Homo sapiens: one gene and its partner. The main gene of each other region encodes a partner of the protein of the gene in region 2 in a complex. Each region holds a gene or a part of one and is shown on either strand. Other genes may lie near its edges. A codon is read from its position in the direction of its gene.

The links.
Region 1: the proteins of SPINDOC (region 2) and SPIN1 are in contact, whole or in part, in a crystal structure (PDB 7CNA), measured with the Homo sapiens proteins. Residues at the interface, in NP_612480.1 of Homo sapiens: Phe256 (codon at 1,355), Ala258 (codon at 1,349), Pro259 (codon at 1,346), Ala260 (codon at 1,343), Val262 (codon at 1,337), His264 (codon at 1,331), Phe265 (codon at 1,328), Thr266 (codon at 1,325), Asp267 (codon at 1,322), Ser269 (codon at 1,316), Phe270 (codon at 1,313), Pro271 (codon at 1,310), Gly273 (codon at 1,304), Phe274 (codon at 1,301), Val275 (codon at 1,298), Leu276 (codon at 1,295), Gln277 (codon at 1,292), Leu278 (codon at 1,289), Phe279 (codon at 1,286), Ser280 (codon at 1,283); in NP_006708.2 of Homo sapiens: Met154, Thr169, Tyr170, Glu171, Pro174, Pro206, Val209, Val210, Leu213, Lys216, Gln217, Val218, Glu219, Tyr220, Thr229, Val232, Val242, Tyr243, Ile245, Phe247, Asp249, Asp250, Tyr254, Val255, Tyr256, Asp257, Leu258, Val259, Lys260, Thr261.

Annotation. Positions count from the first base shown.
Region 1 is NC_000009.12:88,461,335-88,465,084, forward strand, and holds part of SPIN1 (spindlin-1), read left to right. Parts: intron 1-1,161; coding exon 1,162-1,415; intron 1,416-3,750. UniProt on the Homo sapiens protein: Chromatin reader that specifically recognizes and binds histone H3 both trimethylated at 'Lys-4' and 'Lys-9' (H3K4me3K9me3) and is involved in piRNA-mediated retrotransposon silencing during spermatogenesis.
Region 2 is NC_000011.10:63,816,439-63,820,188, reverse strand, and holds part of SPINDOC (spindlin interactor and repressor of chromatin-binding protein), read right to left. Parts: intron 2,385-3,750; coding exon 2,055-2,384; intron 1,974-2,054; coding exon 1,824-1,973; intron 1,663-1,823; coding exon 1,537-1,662; intron 1,388-1,536; coding exon 1,187-1,387; intron 1-1,186. UniProt on the Homo sapiens protein: Chromatin protein that stabilizes SPIN1 and enhances its association with histone H3 trimethylated at both 'Lys-4' and 'Lys-9' (H3K4me3K9me3).

The DNA of each region.
Region 1 (3,750 bases), on a different chromosome or scaffold from region 2:
CCTCCCAGTCTCCTTGGTTAGGTTCAGACCCCCTTGCTTAGTTTTTCACCCCCAGGAGAGAAGCTTCCCTTCTGCGGCGAGTACTCCTTATTGTCTCTTATGGCCTGTTCCCGTCTGACTTAGCTAAATATATGTTACCAGTCTAGAGTAAATTATTTCTATTTAGAAAATATATAATTTTAGTTTTAGCTGTTACAACCTACAATAAATTGTTTCTTTAAAACTTATTTGTGTTATATGTCAGATATTAATCACTTTTATTCATGGTGTACGAAATGAGAGCTTTATACCCATAAAACTGTGGGAAGGGAATTCCTTTCAGGTCTTTTTGTTCTTGGCGTATATCAGCATCTGTTATCTTGGTTTTGACCTTCAGCTTGCATCCAAGAAGCCAGGGTTTTAAGGTGAAATGAAGATTTTTTCCTGATATCAAGAGCCAGGTGTATTATTTATAAACATTCTGTGTGGATTTTTCAATTGCTAATAATAAGCCAGAAAAAAAGTAGTTTGATGTTTCAATAATTTTTAATATTACATTGTTATAAACTTCAGTTTTAAGATTATATGTTTTCTAGACAAGTAATGTTTCTATAGTGCATTGATATAAGCTAGTCTGGACTTCAGTTTAAGAGAAAATTGTCTAGTTTATTTTTATTAGTTAAGCTTGTACAGGCAGAATTATTTGGGCACGGGAATGGGTGAAATTGAATAGTTACACATTTCTTTTTAACTTGAAGTAGATATTATATAAAACTATATACCTGTGTGATTATTGATAACATGTATTTCACGGATCAGTCCTTCTTTAATTAACTTGGAAAATTTTGAGTTGATTGAATTAAAATAAACTCAGAAAGCTGATAACCTGATGCTTAATAGTAGGGCTTAAGTTGCTATTGACTAGTAGTTTTTTCTGCCTATACACAGTTGAGGTGCACAACAAGCTCCTATTACTAACATACCATGTTACACACTCACCACCACTGGTACAGGGGTAGAGGACAACCACTTTGAGTCACCTGAAGCAGGAATGTGGCAAACATGAGTTTGTACATATTTTGGGACCATCTGTAATGAGATCATGCTAGCCAGCGGTTATGTTAGATCTAGGCATGCATACTTTTGAGATAATACCTTATGTGTGTATATGTGTGAATACAGAAAACATCGGAGCAGTGTGGGTCCGAGCAAACCTGTTTCCCAGCCCCGGCGGAACATCGTAGGCTGCAGGATTCAGCATGGGTGGAAAGAGGGGAATGGCCCTGTTACCCAGTGGAAAGGAACCGTTCTGGACCAGGTGCCTGTAAATCCTTCTTTGTATCTTATAAAATACGATGGATTTGACTGTGTTTATGGACTAGAACTTAATAAAGATGAAAGAGTTTCTGCGCTTGAAGTCCTCCCTGATAGAGTTGGTAAGTTCTTTTTATAATTTGTGCATTATATACTTTAAAAATGATATTGAACTGGATGCTTTTTTTATTTTACATTATTAATACTTCACTTTTATTGGAACACAAGCACCCTTCTTGATAAACATTATATTAAATCACCGAAAACCACAAAAATGGATCCTAAGCAGTTCAAGGAACTGTGTGAGGGATATAGAGATGTGTATTTTCCCCCCAAGAAGTTTGCCACGTAATAATTTATAATACGGTTATTTCTAACATTTTTGCTCACTGTTCTCTGGACTCTGATGGGTAAGGTTATCAGTAGCTGAAATATCCTATATGTTAATCTCATCTCATCAGATACAAAAGATAAGAGAATGCTGTGCCTTTAGAATCTTTCTGTGAAAGTGTATCTTTGTGTACAACGTAAATGATAATTGTACTTTGAGCCAAAATTTAAACAACCAAAACGTGGTCTTTATTATACACAGAGCTTGATTGAACAATGTTTGTGGAAATGAATGGCTCTTTTTAAATGTCATACAGTGCCAGTTTTGCCCTGCAAGTGTTCCTTAAGGCATAAGGTCTAAGGTAAATAATAATTACTGATTTTATTAGTAGGGTGGGATACACCCAAACTAATATTACTTTTTTTTGAAGTATTTATTTTGAAATATTTTCTTATTACAGTGATGCTGCTCTTGTTTAAAATATTGGTTTATACTTTTAGAATTGTCTTTATAAGTCTATACCATTAAATAATAAAGTTTCAGCAGATCTAGACTTGGGAGGTAGGAATTTTGGGATCAAATTGTCACAGGAAGAAATTAGTTCAGTCTCCTCGCTTTGTTTTTCTTCAGACTGTGCCATTGTGTCCCTGGGATATAACGAGTTTCCTTAGGAAGTTAATTCTGCCTTAGTAGCAAGTTATTTTGTTTTACTCTTCTCTTTAGATATCAAATGCTAAATCCTTGCTCATCTGTATAAATATGGTTCAGTTTTCAAAGAAATCTTTCTTTAAATTTAAATCTTTATTATTACTCCTAAAAGTAATATTAAGTCTTTGTTATTTTCAACATTCTCATCTATTCTTAAGTGTGACTGATCACCTGCTCTTCCTCTTGATGCACATCCTACATTTCTTCTTGATCATGGCATTAATCCATTTCCCATATAAGAAACTTTAACATATTAAAAATCTTAACAGCAGAATTTTAGTCTCTGCCCCTTCTGAGACGACAGCTAGCTCACTTGAAGGTTCCTGCATATTGCTGCATGACCTGTGGTTGTTGGTCCTTTTGTCATCGAAGGATAGAAACTGTACAAGTATCTCTGGTGATGGGACTAAGGGTTCCATGTTGTTTGTAGTTTGGTATTATCTCTGTTTCCAACAATAGTAATTTTGTAAACATTCAAGCAATATAAAAAGAAACCCAAGAGCTTTTCTGTAAATCAGCAATATATATGCCTAATTCAGCTAATAGTTGTTATTAATTTTAGTATTCGTGGTATTAGGTTGGTGCAAAAGTAATTGCGGTTTTTGACATTGAAATTGAAAGTAATGGCCAAAACAGCAGTTACTTTGGCATCAACCTACTTTAGTCTAAAAAATTACTTGCTCTTCACTTACGTTTTACGTCGGAAGCAATTGCTTCAGGCAGTACATTAGAGTATAATTAAAATTATGTTTTTCTTAAGCTAAAGTTAGAGAAAAAAGTCAGTCAGCCAGAATGCATGTGATGTCACAGAGCAGTGGTTCCCAAAGCAAGGCCTGGGGACCCTTGGGTTCTCTGAAGCCCATTCAGGAGATTTGCAAGGTCAGAAATATTTTCATTTTGTTAAGCTGTAATTCGCGCTTTTCACTCTCTCTTTTTCTCAATTACACAGTGGAGTTTCCCACTATCTATTTGGAAGATTTGCATAACTTAGTGAACACAATATTTTCTTTATGAGCAGTGCATGGTACCACATCATGCATTGGTGAAAGAGCTATTCAAAGTGCAAGACTAACTACTTTTTTTTTAATTGTAAAAAAACATAGCATAAAATTTACTGTCCTAACCATTTTTAAGTGTACAGTTCAGTAGTGTGTTAAGTACATTCGCATTGTTGAAACAGATCTCCAGAACTACTTCATCTTACAAATCTGAAACTCTCTACCTATTAAACAAAACAACCTACCTTTCCTCCCATTCCCAGCCCCTGGCAACCACCATTCTACACTCTGTCTCTATGAATTTGACTATTCTAGATATCTCATAGAAGTGGAATCACACAGTATTTGTTTTGTGAGTAACTTATTTCACTTAGCATAATGTCCTCAAAGTTGGTTCATGTTGTAACGTGTGACAGGATT
Region 2 (3,750 bases):
CGACCTCAGGTGATCTGCCCGCCTCAGCCTGCCAAAGTGCTGGGATTACAGGCGTGAGCCACCACGACTTGCCTTGTATGTAAGCTTCTTAAACTCAGTAGGAGCCCAAACAACACAAGCACTTACTGCTGTTATGAGGCAATTTACTGAGCTGGTGTCCCCTGGAGGTGTCTGTCCACTGCTCATCTTATCTATTCTCTGGACACCTAACTGAATTGCTGAGTGGCCCCATCTGGGCCTCAGCTCCACCAGGGTAAGGTGGGCACCCCTCAGGCTCTAGCTAGAACAAACTGCATGTGTGGAAATCAGTATCAGGCTTCTGGGAAACACTGGCCTACCCGGACCCAGTGACCAATTCCAGGAAACAAGGAAACACTAAGAAAAGCCCACCTGGTCAGGTGCGGTGGCTCACGCCTGTAATCCTAGCAGTTTGGGAGGCTGAGGCAGGTGGATCACCTGAGGTCAGGAGTTCGAGACCAGCCTGGCCAACATGGCGAAACCCTGTCTCTACTAAAAATACAAAAATTAGCTGGGCATGGTGGCACACGCCTGTAATCCCAGCTACTCAGGAGGGTGAGGCAGGAGAATCGCTTGAACCTGGGAAGCAGAGGATGCACTGAACCGAGATCGCGCCACTGCACTCCAGCCTGGGCGACAGAGCAAGACTCTTGTCTCAAAAAATAAAAAATAAAAAAATAGGCCAGGCGTGGTGTACTTTGCGAGGCCAAGGCAGTTGGATCACCTGAGGTCAAGAGTTTGAGACCAACCTGGCCAACATGGGAAAACCCTGTCTCTACTAAAAATACAAAAATTAGCCGGGTATGGTGGCGCACGCCTGTAATCCCAGCTACTAGGGAGGGTGAGGCAGGAGAATTGCTTGAACCTGGGAGGCAGAGGTTGTAGTGAGCCGGGCTTGTGCTACTACATGCCAGCCTGGGCAACAGAGCAAGATTCCGTCTCAAAAAACAAACAAACAGAAAAAGAAAAGCTCAGCTTTCAGGCCAGCCTTCCTCATCATTCAGATCCCCTGCCCCGGCCCCGTGTACCAGGAAACCTGAGCACCACCCACCCCACCCACCCCACCCACCCCTACTGTGGGCTCTGCCATAGAGCAGCCTCTCTGAGGCCTGGCCCAGGAGCGCTGCCTGCGAGGTCCCTACTGTGCTTCCCTCTCAGGAGGGCTCACCTGGAGAGGGGCTCTCCGCCCGGGGAAGGCCTCCTTCTGCCACTTCCCTGTCTTTGGGTGAGTCCTTGCTGTCTGGGCCCCTGAGCTGGGTGTGGGAGAAGAGCTGCAAGACGAAGCCGGCGGGGAAGCTGCCGTCAGTGAAGTGTCGGACCTCGGCTGGTGCTGCGAAAGTCTCCGTGGGCGAGTCTGGCGATGGGGGCTCTGGAAGGGAGGACGGGATGGAACTGTGAGTGAAAAAGCCTCAGGAGCTGCAGGCGCCCTGCGCCCAGGCCCTGCTCCATCCTCACTGATGCGGATTTCCTCAGAGCACTGCGGCCAGAGCCCACGCCTCCCCCGGGCCTCCCCTTCACCTGGGTCAGGGTCCAGGTTTTTGGTCATAGGTCTGCCTCTTTTCTTTCTGACTGGCTCTTCCCCTGGGGGTTCCTTCCATCTCTGACCACGGGGCTTCTTATTTCCTGGCTCTGTGGCAGGGACAGCTGCAAAAAGAAAAGACCTCATACCCTTTTAAAGAGGCCATCCCCGAACCCTGCCACCCCAGGGCTCCTGAAGATACCTGCCCAGAACACAGGGCCTGTATTTCACCCTGTCCCCAAACCCCCACCTCCACCGGGGCTCACTGGCTTCTCTGTTGACTAACCAGGAAGCTCGAGGGGGCGGAGTCCCCTGGGCCGGCTCCTTTTAGGGAGGGATGGGTTATCCTCAGAGTCAAGGAGAACGACGATTTCGGCTGGCATTCTGGCAGCGTCTGGGTTGGCGTCTGGGTCTGGGTGGGCATCCTGGCCCGAGTCTGCAGGGAGCAAGAGCACAATGAGCTTCTAGTGCCCCAACAAGTCCGACTTCTCCCTTCGCCAGCCCCAGGACCAACTACCTGAGTTGGGTGGGGACGGCTGCTCAGCTCTCACGTCTTGCAAGAGGGCCACCCCTTCACTCCAGGCCTCCAGGATATTGCTCTTCTCAGAAGGGCTCAGGTCCAAGGTGTGAGGGTGCTGCTCCAAGATGTGCGAGCGAGCTGTGTCGGCCGAGGGTGCCCGGATCTCAGCGCCACACACCATGCACAGTGCCCGCCCGCTGCCTCCTGGGCTGCTGCCCACCAGGAACTCCTGCTCCCAAGACACCTGCTGCTTCGGCTCCTCACAGCCATCACTGCCTGCCTCTAGCGGGCTGGGTCTAGGCGGTGGGGTCTTCTCCTGTTGGGTCACTGCGAGGGGAGAGGGGGAGGGTGTTATCACTAAAGGTGCCCACAACCAACAACACTTAGCACGTCTCCAGACTCAGTGGTTTGAGTGGGATGGGGGAGGAGAGCATTTCTGGCCAAAGTGTTCTTCTTCCTTCCCCTGGAGCCCATGAGGCACACGCCACACTCAACACAGCCGATGTGCCCGGGATCCCACGACTCTCGCGTCTATACTTCCTCTTGATCTAGTCTTGGACCTTAGGACTAACTACACATACTTTCCCAACAGGCTGCATTCTTGCAGGTCTCCAGCCTTTGCACATCTGTCCAGACCACCCTAATTGGGCTGGGCAACATCATCCCTGCGAAGCTTTCCAGAACCCCAATCCCTGACAATAGATTTCATCCAAATCTGACTTCTACACTTTCTTGAGGATGAGGAAGGTAAATTCTTTTAATTTTTAAATTTTATTTATTTATTTTGAGACAGAGTCTCACTTTGTCACCCAGGCTGGAATGCAATGGCGTAATCTCAGCTCATTGCAGCCTTGACCTCCTGGGTTCAAGCGATCCTCCTGCTTCAGCCTCCCAAGCACCTGGGACTACAGGTGAGCGCCACCATGCCTGGCTAATAATTTTTTTTTTAAAAGATGGGGGTCTCATTTTGTCACCCAGGCTGGAGTACAGTGGTGTTATCATAGCTTACTGCTGCCTTCAACTCCTGGACTCAAGGGACCCTCCAGCCTTAGCCACCTGAGTAGCTAGGGCTACAGATAGATGCATGCTATCACACCCAGCTAATTAACAAACAAAAAAATAATTTTTAAGAGATGGGGTCTTGCTATGTTGCCCAGGCTGGTTGTGAACTCCCGGGCTCAAGCAATCCTCCTGCTTCAGCCTCCCAAAGTGCTGGGATTATAGGCATGAGCCACCATGCCCGTTCTAAAGGCCACCCCATCCCCTCAGAACTCGCCTCCCTTCTCAGTGCTCACAGAGCATTTACAGCCATGGTCCCACTCCTATTGCTGCCTGATACCTGCTCTTTGTGTACACAGACAGACCATAAGCTTTCACAGGGCATCACCCTTTCCAGTTCAGCAAAGAAGGCAGCCTTAGACCTGCATCAGCCTGGAAGCTCAGTGCTTTTACGAAGTGCCCATGATCCTTCACGGCTGCATCTCCCTCCTACCTTCCAGAGAGGATGGGACAAAATTAAAACACAGGAGGCCCTAATACCTGGGGGCTGCATGGAAGAGGTGGTATGAGAAATAGGAGCCTCGGCTTGCATGGATACAAGAGGTGGTGTCTGAAAGAGATACGAGATATGTCTTGTACCTATCTCTCATGCGACCATGGGCAGAAATGACCTCTCAGTTGCAATCAGCTTTCT